Regions from separate parts of the Homo sapiens genome. Here region 1 is linked to region 2. A link means that fine-mapping ties the variant in region 2 to the plasma level of a protein whose gene starts in the linked region. Region 2 holds a variant in brackets. A gene starts in the other region. All regions are shown on their forward strands.

Region 1 (5,313 bases), not on the chromosome of region 2:
GGAAATGAAATAAATAATGTTTTCAAGTTGTCCAGATGCATCACTATTCATTTTATTTCTGTCATCACTATTATTTTTACTTAGTTGATATGTGAATCTGTGCCATGAGGAGCTACTGGGGATTAAATCTCAAAAGACCTAGGAAGGAAATGCCAGCACTCTAATTGCTCAATGGCTGTGTGAAAAATTCTCTGAAAGAAAAAGGCAAGGTTCATAAATAACATGTGAATATTCTTCTCCAAAATGTGGAAAGTGGCACTAGTTGATTGGACGATAAGTAGATGAAATAAACTGCTCTGCTTTGCTAGATCTTATTAAATGAACAGAAATATTAACTTAAATCTTTCCAAAGAGGGTGTTTTGAATAAAAAAAAAATCATAGTTAACAATAGTCACAACCATCAGGTTTGACTGAGTAAGCTGTGAACTGAAAAAAGCTGGTGTCTACGAGAAAGGGGAGAATAAAAAAAAAAAAGATTTCTGCTGACTTGGACTGAGTGAACATTTCTATTCAATGTGCTTAGGCCCTGGGCCAGAGGAGAGCTCAGATACAATGCCAAGGTGACATATTTAACCTCTTTGCAGATTAAAGGCAGTGCAAAAGAGATACTCTTTCTGCAGTACCTCTTGGTGTACTGTTTCAACAGTATTGATCTGCAGTTAAAAGCATGTTTTTTTTTCTTTTCTTTTCCTTTCTTTTCTTTTTTTCTCTTGCAGAGTGACCTTTAATACCTGGGAAGGATGAATAAGCACAACCTACATTATTGCTTTATTTTAGAAAAGAGAGCCAGAAATGGTAGTACATTATAATATGAGTTACCATAATCTCTTTAGCTCTTTAATTCTCTTCTCCCATTTTTGCTTTTGTAAATAAGACATTATCAAGAATTAGAGAAATTTTAGGTCTATGTGTGAGCATCTTAACAAATGATAGTAGGAGGCAAAAAATAATTAGTTATAAAGCTGTAAAAGGGAACCAAGAAAGGGAAAATAATCGCAATAACTTAAAAATAATCAAACAAGAATATAGTATAAAAGGAGAAATTTTCCTACCTTTTGGAAAAGCAAAAAGTTCCGTTTCTACATTGCTGTTAGGCTCAGGAGATTGAATAACTTTAGATAATTTAAACATGGAAAACATACAAATTATTTGATTTGAAATTTTTTTTAAAAACTACCTTCTTTATAGTTTATTTCATATATGTAATAAAGTACTTCTACAAAACACATTTCAGGATTCAGGCTTCACTAAGATCTGAATGCTACTGAGGCGATCAACAGTTCCACATTTCTATTCTTGGTCTTCACTAAAATCACCATCATTTATTAGTACTTGCTATTTAATTTCGCAGGAAACAAGAAAACATGAATACAAATGGTAAAATTCTCTATGAAGTATCTTTTCTGTAAATCACACAAAACTTTTTTTGGTAAATAAATGGCTTTGTATTATTTAGGCAAAAATATTTGACAGCTTTATCAGATCACGCAAATCAGCTTAACAAATGCAATTAGATAATGCCGTAAATTTATTACAACTTACCTTTAAGTAAGGGGCTGGACCCAGAGCCACTGCAGAAAAATTGAAGTTGAATCCCCTCTGCACACAGACAGGGAATAAAAGTTTGACAAACACCCAAGAAAAACTCTTTAAATCCCTTTCCTCGTTAGCTCTGCTTCTTTGCCCAGAGGCATATTCAAGTCTACTGGAGTTGAAATTCTGCTGCTCTGTCAACTAGTGGGGGTCTGAAGTGACAGACGAGAATTTGGAGGTTGGCACCAGAGAGTATTTCAGACTGTCATCGTTTTTGTTGCAGATTCCTGGATTTCCCTAGCAGGCTGGCCTCTCATGCGAGGGCTTTACAGGCAGTGCTTGCAAACCAAAAGGGAAAGAGCTAATTCTGGTGGCGTGGATGGGGTTAACAGTCTTCCCCTCAAGCTCTTGTTCTCAGAGCCTCATAACTTGGCCAGAATATAAGCACTTGGCTCTTTATGCATTTTTTTTCTTTTTCAAACAACTCTGAAAGGTTTTATAAGCAGCATCCCTTTTTTGGAGATTTTTATTTTAAGACCTTGAAAAGAAACTCCATGCTGTTGTTTCTTTCTAAAGGAAATTGGGGAGTAGGGATTAAAGGAGGGAAGAAGAGAAATGGCAGCAGATGCATTTTTACGTTGCTCAATTGGAAATTGTTCTAGCAAATACAGTCTGAATTTTAATAGAAGGGTACTTCAGATACCTTAACCTTCTTTGAATGAGATTTGGAAATGGACATATATAAAAATGATTGCTCCTTATATTATAGATCACTTGTATGCTGATTCAGAAATGTTGCAGTTCTCCCCTCAACACAGCTCTCCACTGTAACTCCATGGTTATAATGGTTGGTATCTAAGAAGGAGGTTTCCCATAAAAAGAATGGAGGTGTGCACTTATTTTTGGCCCGGGATTCTGGTTGTTTGTATGTGTCTAATCTCTTCTACTGCTACTTCTACATTTATCACACATTTATTATGTGTCAGACACTGTGCTAACAGCTTTTTATGCGTTATTATCAGTTGATCCTCACTACGCATGGTAAGTTTTACTGTGTTCCCATTTGAGGGGTAGTGTCATACAGTGGTTGGATTGGCAGAATTTGAGGCCAGCCAGCTTGGATTTGCATCCTATCTTCACCACTTCCTAACTATGACCCGGGACAAGTTATATAACCTCTCTAAAGCATCAGTGCTTTTATCTATAAGACAGGGATATACATATGGAAATGATGATAATATCTATCTCTGCAATTGTTCTGAGTTTTAAGTTAGTTAACATGATAAACTGCATAGAACACCCCTGCCACGTAGCAGACACTCAATAAATGTTAGCTATTATCATTTACATAAGAGGAAACCAAAGCTTAGTAAGGGTGTTTTTTCTAGGGTATCCAACTGTAACTTACAGGATGGGATTCCAAATCAGCTACCATGGCTGACAGCCACACTTGTGTAACTTATCTATAATCCCTCTATTATGTGATATAGACACATATATATATCATACCTGCTTCTGAGAAAGCTGTAAACTCCTTGAAGGAAGGGGATGTGCCCTTTCTGCATTCTCCTGGTGCCTAGCACAGTGCTTTGCATCCTGTAAATGTTCCATTATCATCAGATGAATAATTATAATTTAATTTAATTTAATTTAGATTTTCTAAATGCATGCCAACGTCTGGCCAAAAGCAAAAACACTGACAAAAACAAAATAAAACCAAAATAAACCAAAAACCCCCACCTACATTTCTAGGCAAATATGCCCTCAGCCAAATCTCTCAAAACACTTTAGAATTATTTGCCCTATTTATTTTCAGAACACTGCAAGAAAAAGGTAACAAGGATTATCTCTACTTTGCAGTTGGAGAAATTTGGGAGCAGAGGAAACTGGGCACTTTGCCTAGGAGCCAAAAACAAGTCACGGTGCAGCTGGGAACACTCACGTCTCTAGAATCAGGATAACTTGTTCCAAACCGCCTTTCCCAGGACAGCATGAAAGGACTTGATGTCTTTTTGCCTCAGACAATAGGATGTTTTTCCTTAGCCAAGGTCTAGGGGTTGAGCAATCTCCTCGGAGGAAGGATAAAGGGGTGGGCAGTGTTTGACCATGCTTCTCCCTGGTGTGCACATCCTCTGTGCACATCTGCTCTGAGAAGTGTGGAAGACACAGACCATTTTTCCAAGTCTCCCAAGGGGCTTGGGAGCAGTGAGACTATTGCAGAATAAGTAAGAAAAGCATTTCTGAGGATTTGGCCTTAGTTGGCTAAAGAAAATTTTCTTGGGGACCCAAAATATTAACTTCTTATTCTAACTAGCATTCCCCATTTATTTAAGATGGCTTTGTAAGATTGATTTCAGGTGATTACATCAATTCAACGAGAATGTAGAAAAAAATTTCATTTAAAGGGCTCTGGAAAAAAAGTTACCCGACTAAAATTTTTTTCTGCTAAAATTGATATTTTATGCTTCTGTAAAATGATCAAAATAAATTTTCTTATGTAACTGTGTTAACCTAAAAAGTAATTACTTAAAGCAAACTGGATTCATCTCTTAAATGTAAATAGGTACCTAGAGAGTTCATTTGTAGGTGGCAAAGCTTGAGAATTTTGACTTTCAGTTTTATTGGAGGTCTTATTAATTTATAACATGATTAATAAAGACCCACTGTATTTCTTACAACAAAACAAGAGAGAAAAATGAATAAAAAAAGGCCTTTGAATTCGCGGTGTCTTTTCAGTATAGCTTTATTTGGAAATGTTTGTTGGCAGATATTCAAACTCTCATTGTTTCTGAAGCTGTTTTTTCTAAAATAGTTTACAGTTCAGAAAGCTGAGGACAATAAACCTGCAACAATACTCACCTAACAGATGGAGCTACAGATCAGATTTAGAAAACGTATGAGACGTCCAAATGGGTTGGGAAAAGTTTGACAAAAAGCTCATTATGTTACTGTACATGAAGAGACGTAACATCACTGTTGGTCAGAGGATGTGACAGATGTCAACATCTAAATGGATTTTCTTTTTTCTTTTTTTTTACCTTTTAGTGTTAGGATTCCCTTTGAGAATCTGATGAAAGCTGTGGGCAAGCTCCTAAAACCCATCTATGAAACTCCCCCCCAGTATCCTCTCAGGGATTCTATGAAGTTAAAAACCCCTAATTCAGGGGAAGGAGCAGAGAACACGTTAATTAATCCTCAAGCATATACAGAACTTCTTTGTTACATATAGCAGAAGCCTCTGGGTGATATCAAAGATGTACTTCCTGCCTATTAGGAGTCCAAGAGCCAAGGCATATGCTCATTGTCAGAGGTCACATGATTCTTTTGGAATAGTGGAGATCCCCAGGAAGGAGGTAAGTATGGGTGAGTGAAAAAGCTGCAGTAAAAACAGAGTGTCTGTATTGATCTTGGCCAGGACCTGGCCTGTAGGACCCTCTTCCTTGATTACCCAATGTATTAGTTTCCTAGGGCTGGCGTAACAAAATACCACAAATTGGGTGGCTTAAACAGCAGAAATTAATTTTCTCACAGTTCTGGAGGCTGGAAGTCCAAGATCAAGGTGCCAGCAGGGTTGGTTTCTCCTGAGGCCTCTCTCCTTGGCTTGTGGATGGTCACTTTCTCACTGTGTCCTCACACAGTCCTTCCCCTGGGCATGTGTGCTTCTGGTGTCTCTGCCTCTTTTTATAAGGACGCCAGTGCTGTTGGATTAGATCCTCACGTTTACGTCTTCATTTAACCTTAATTTACCTCTTTAAAGGCTCTGTCTCTAAATATAGTGA
Region 2 (5,385 bases):
TAATCGATGGAGAAATTCTCTATGTATAAGAACAGAGTCAAGAAAATTGCCTAATAATTGGTCTGCCCAAACTTGTGAACTGTTTGCACTCAGCCAAGCCTTAAAGCACTTGCAAAACCAGGAAGGAACCATCTATACTGATTCTAAGTATGCCTTTGGAGTGGCTCATACATTTGGAAAAAGTTGGACTGAATGTGGCCTCACTAATAGTAAAGGTCATGACCTTGTTCATAAGGAGTTAATCATCCAAGTACTGGATAACCTTCAGTTGCCAGAAGAAATAGCTATTGTCCGTGTACCCGGGCACCAGAAAAGCCTTTCTTTTGAAAGTCGAGGAAATAACCTAACAAACCAGATAGCCAAACAAGCTGCTGTTTCCTCCGAAACACCTATGTTTCACTTAACTCCTTGTCTTCCTTCCCCTACTGCAATTTCCTTTTTCTCTTCCATTGAAAAAGAAGAATAAAGATAGGAGCCAAAGGAGAAGACCAGAATGAAAACGGCTGTTACTAGACCAAAAGGAAATGTTATCCAAGCCCGTTATGTGGAAGATCTAGTCTCAACTATATCTGAGGACACACTGGGGATCCCAAGCCATGTGCGATGCAGTTCTCAGGGTCTATGGATGTATAAGAATTTACACCCTAGCCAAACAAGTTACAGATAGTTGCTTAATATGTAAAAAGACTAGTAAGCAGATTCTAAGAAAACCGCCCCTTGGAGAAAGAGATTCAGGGCTAAGACCATTTCCAAGTGTTCAATTAATTATACTGAAATGCCCCCAATTGGTCATTTAAAATACTTATTAGTAATAATAGACCACTTTACCTACTGGGTAGAGACTATCCCACACTCAAATGCAACCACCAGTAACGTAGTTAAGGCATTAATTGAAAACATTGTACCCAGATTTGGACTAATACAAAGCACTGATTCAGACAATGGAACCCATTTCACTGCATATGTCATTAAAAAGTTAGCCCAGGTACTAGACATAAAATGGAAAAACCATATCCCTTGGCATCTCTCCTCCTCAAGAAGAGTAGAAAGGATGAATCAGACTCTAAAAAGCCACTTAACTAAATTAGTTCTAGAAACTTGATTGCCATGGACTAAATGTCTTCCTATTGCCTTGTTAAGAATCCGAACTGCTCCTCAGAGAGATACTGGCCTTTCCCCTTATGAGATGCTCTATGGATTGCCCTATTTATACTCCACTGCTAACATTCCTACATTCAAAATAAAAGATCAGTTCCTCAAAAATTATATACTTGGTCCATACTCTACTTTCTCTTCCCTTAAGACTAAAGGTCTCCTAGCACAGGCGCCACCGCTGGAGTTTCCAGCACATTAGCGTCAGCCTGGAGACCATGTCCTCATAAAAGGGTGGAAGGAAGGCAAACTCAAACCAGCTTGGGAAGGACCCTACTTGGTGCTCCTAAATACTAAGACTGCAGTCCGAACAGCAGAATGAGGATGGACTGATCACACCCGCGTCAAAAAGGCGCTGCCACCTCCAGGATCATAAACCGTCACTCCAGGGCTCACCCCAACCAAATTAACTCTAAAAAGGGCTTAATAATCACTTGTTTATTTTTTCTTTTCTTTCCAACAGAAGGTCATCTTGTCATCAATGTAACTTGGGCTAACCATCCTTTAATCCTTCAGTTTGATGCTTGTTCAGTCATCCTGTGTGGAGACAAGCAAGCTCAAAGGAAGCTGTCTCATGTAGATAAGTACCTATGTCCATACCATAAAAAGTCAACCAAGTATAAGTATAGAACCTTAAAAAGTCCCTGTGGTGACTGGACAGATGTTTGGAAACCACTCAGTATGGAGGGTGGACAGCCAGGCCCCCTTTTTCAAATAAGTTATGGGGACTAAAACAGAAACTCCAACTAATTCATGGTCCCACCCCACCAAACTGTAAGCCACTGCAGTGTAACCCCTCATTGCTAATTATAGCTAACCCCCAAACAATGGCCCAAGAACCCACTATATTCAAACAGTATGGATTAGGAGCAAATGTTACAAAACAAAATCCCATAAAAATCTTCAACCACTGGTTAACAATGATAATTAAAAAAAAATCCACACCCAGAGTCTGGGAAACGAGTGGAATCTAACACTCTCTCCAAGTATAGCGAGCTCAGCGTCCTCCTCCCATCTCCAAAACAACCCAACTAAAGTAACGGTTGTAAAGGTAAAAAATTTAAAGCAGACTATAGCCCTAGAGACAGGATGTCAAGATGCAAATGCTTGGCTAAAATGGATTAAATATTCCATCTGCACTTTAAACAAATATGAATGTTATGCTTGTGCTCACGGTAGACCAGAGGCCCAGATTGTCCCCTTTCCACTCAGATGGTCTTCTAACTGACCGGGCATAAGCTGTATGGTAGTTCTCTTCCAAGATCACACAGCCTGGGGTGACAAATCATGTCAAGCTCTTTCTCTGCTGTTCCCTGAAGCTCAACACCCTGAGGGTCAGCCCCCGAGGGCCATCAGCTTCCGTTTCCCAATGCCAATTTTACTTTGTGTCTCTCACAACAGGGAGAAAACTTGGTGTTCCTTGGAGCCTTAATGGGATGCAGTGAGCTTAAGTCCTTCCAAGAGCTTACCCATCAGTCTGCCCTTAGTCATCCTCGAGCGGATGTATGGTGGTATTGTGGTGGACCATTACTGGACACTGCCGAGTAACTGGAGCAGAACATGCACTCTAATTCCATTGGCTATCCCTTTCACCCTGGCATTTCATCAACCAGAAAAGACAGAAACCAAACACTGTAAAACAAGAGAGGCCCCTCATGGGTCTGTTGACTCCCACATTTATATAGATTCCACTGGAGTCCAACGAGGAGTGCCAGATGAATTTAAGGCCCAAAATCAGACAACTGCAGGATTTGAATCCACGTTCTTCTGGTGGTTAACTATAAATAAAAATGTGAATTAGATAAACTACATTTATTACAACCAATGATGATTTTTTTTTTTTTGACGGAGTTTTGCTCTTGTTGCCCAGGCTGGAATGCAA[T/C]GGCATGATCTCGGCTCACCACAACTTCTGCCTCCTGGGTCCAAGCAATTCTTCTGCCTCGGCCTCCCGAGTAGCTGGGATTATAAACATGTGCCACCACGCCTGGCTAATTTTGTATTTTTAGTAGAGACAGGGTTTCTCCATGATGGTCAGGCTGGTCTCAAACTCCCGACCTCAGGTTATCTGCCTGCCTCGGCCTCCCAAAGTGCTGGGATTACAGGCATCAGCCACTGTGCCCAGCCTATGATTTGTTAATTATACTAGAGATGCTCTTAAAGGGACAGCTGAACAATTAAGACCCACCAGTCAAATGGCCTGGGAAAATAAAATAGCATTAGACATGATACCAGCGAAAGAGGGTGGAGATTGTGTCATTATCGGAACCCGATGCTATACTTTTATCCCTAATAATACTACTCCAGGTGGGATCACACCAAAAGCACTACAAGGTCTTACTGCCTTATCAAATGAGCTAGCCAAAAATTCTGGACTAAACGACCCCTTCACAAATTTAATGGGAAATTCTTTGGCAAATGGAAGGGATTTATGTCCTCAATCCTCATGTCTCTTGCCATCAGAATAGGGTTGCTTATTCTTGTAGGATGCTGTGTCATACCCTGTGCCCTAGGATTAATACAAAAGCTCATTGAAACAGCTCTCCCCAAAACCTCCCTCAATCCTCCTCCTCCTCGTTCCAGTGAGCTTTTTCTTTTAGAAGACCCAAGTAGAATAACAGAGCCAAATTATGTTAAAAGGGTTTAAAGAAAAAATACTGTAAAATATTTAACAGGGGGATTGTTAAATACAGTAAGAAATTCTTCTTCAAAGGTTCAGCTTGCTTAAGTTTCCTTGTTCTTTGCTCCCTGCTTTCAAGGCCAGACTTCCTTACTCTCTGTGTTCTCCCTGCGCTGGTAAACAACCTTCCCGCCAGTCGTTATCTATAGAGCCCACATTCCACATCTGCTACCCACTCTGTGAATTACCCCTCCCATCACAATGGCTTCTCCCGGCAAAACTGATCTTCCTGCCTTCCCAGCAGTGTAATCACATTCCTGCACTTTTCAAGTTAGCCAACCGGGTTCAGCTTAGATTGTACGGTCCAACTCTAGCCAATGGAGTCAGGATACAGTAGCAGGGACAAGCTGCGTTAGACATAAAAACCTCTGCTTTCCTTTGTTCGGGGTGCTCTCGTGGCAACCGAACCTATGAGGAGCAACCTTATGCAAAAGTAAATTTGCCTTGCTGAGAGACCCTTTGTCCTTTGTCTCAGTGCTAGTTCTTCTTTGCAGCACCAAGCATTTGTTTTCAACAATTATATATTTAAGGAATCTTTGATTATGGAAAATTTCAAGAAGTAGAGGGAATAGCATACTAAGCCCTCTGTTCCCATCTTTGAGTTATCTACATTTTATTAGAAGTATCTTTGGGGTGACTGAGGGAGGTTTCTCTTTCCTGGAGGGCTTCTGAATTATTGCCAATGTACCTTCCTGACTGCAGCCAGAAACTGAGGCCCCTATACCTATGTACCTTTCTATCCCTCTCTGAAGCTTCTGCAGAATTCCCAGCAAGACAGAGCTTGCTGGAAGCTTGGTATGCTCAGAAGCAGCTAAAGCGTGTATGTGGGGCGGAGGGTGGGGGCAACTTCTTGGTCCTAGCACTTCCATATATTGATTTTCTTTTCTGGCTGCTTAGTGGGAGGAGTGTGTGTGTATGCATGTGTGTGTGTGCGTGTGTGTGTGTGTGTACATGCCTGTGTGTGTGGATGCATGCATGTGCTGTGAAGCAGGGAGACCAGCTTTCCGCTCCTTCTTGTTTTCTCTCTGCAGTGACCTGGGAGCTGTCATTTCCCTCCTGCTCTGGGGACGACAGCTTTTTGCACTGTACTCAGGCAATGATGTCACGGATATTTCAGGTCAGTCTTTGAGTTGGGTAGGAGCATGCATCCCTGGCACTGCCACATCCCACTCTGACTCTCTCGGGTCTGCATTCTTTCTTTGAGAACACACAGTTCCCCATTCTTATCCTGACCTCTGGGCTTTCAGGACTGCCAAGAACATTGGGGATCCTGCCAGAAATGAGGGGAGCTTGAGCTTTCGTTGGCTTCTATTTGGGGTAGAAGGAGATTGATGTGCAGAGCAGCTTCCACTCATCTGACTTTTCATGGGTCTCTGGGAACAATTTCCAAATGGTAAACTCTCTGGCTTCTCTCTCTTTGCAGATGACCGCTTCCCGAAGCCCCCTGAGATTGCAAATGGCTATGTGGAGCACTTGTTTCGCTACCAGTGTAAGAACTACTACAGACTGCGCACAGAAGGAGATGGTAAGACCTGGACAACTATCTCTGTGCTCTA

Alleles and levels. Positions count from the first base shown, and alleles are read on the strand shown. Strength reflects both the effect of a copy and how common the allele is.
For the plasma level of the protein whose gene starts at base 1,875 in region 1, allele T in region 2 goes with a higher level than allele C (moderate association).

What was found. A credible set is the group of variants that fine-mapping cannot tell apart. PIP is the chance, under the fine-mapping model, that this variant and not a neighbour inherited with it causes the effect. The UK Biobank Pharma Proteomics Project read protein levels with antibody pairs (Olink). The fine-mapping took linkage between variants from a reference panel, not from the people measured, so its PIPs are less certain.
Region 1: it holds the start of SPARCL1, and the variant in region 2 is the best candidate, but not a certain one, in a credible set for the plasma level of the SPARCL1 protein (UK Biobank, PIP 0.77).

What each region holds. Positions count from the first base shown.
Region 1 is chr4:87,527,502-87,532,814 of GRCh38, forward strand. SPARCL1 (SPARC like 1) reads right to left here and starts at 1,875. Exons shown (of 11, transcript NM_004684.6): 1 at 1,544-1,875.
Region 2 is chr16:72,069,032-72,074,416 of GRCh38, forward strand. It overlaps HPR (haptoglobin-related protein), which reads left to right. Exons shown (of 5, transcript NM_020995.4): 2 at 4,861-4,946; 3 at 5,253-5,354. Among named protein-coding and RNA genes, the nearest start is that of HPR, 8.5 kb to the left of the region's middle. The variant T/C (reference allele first, on the strand shown) is at 3,035.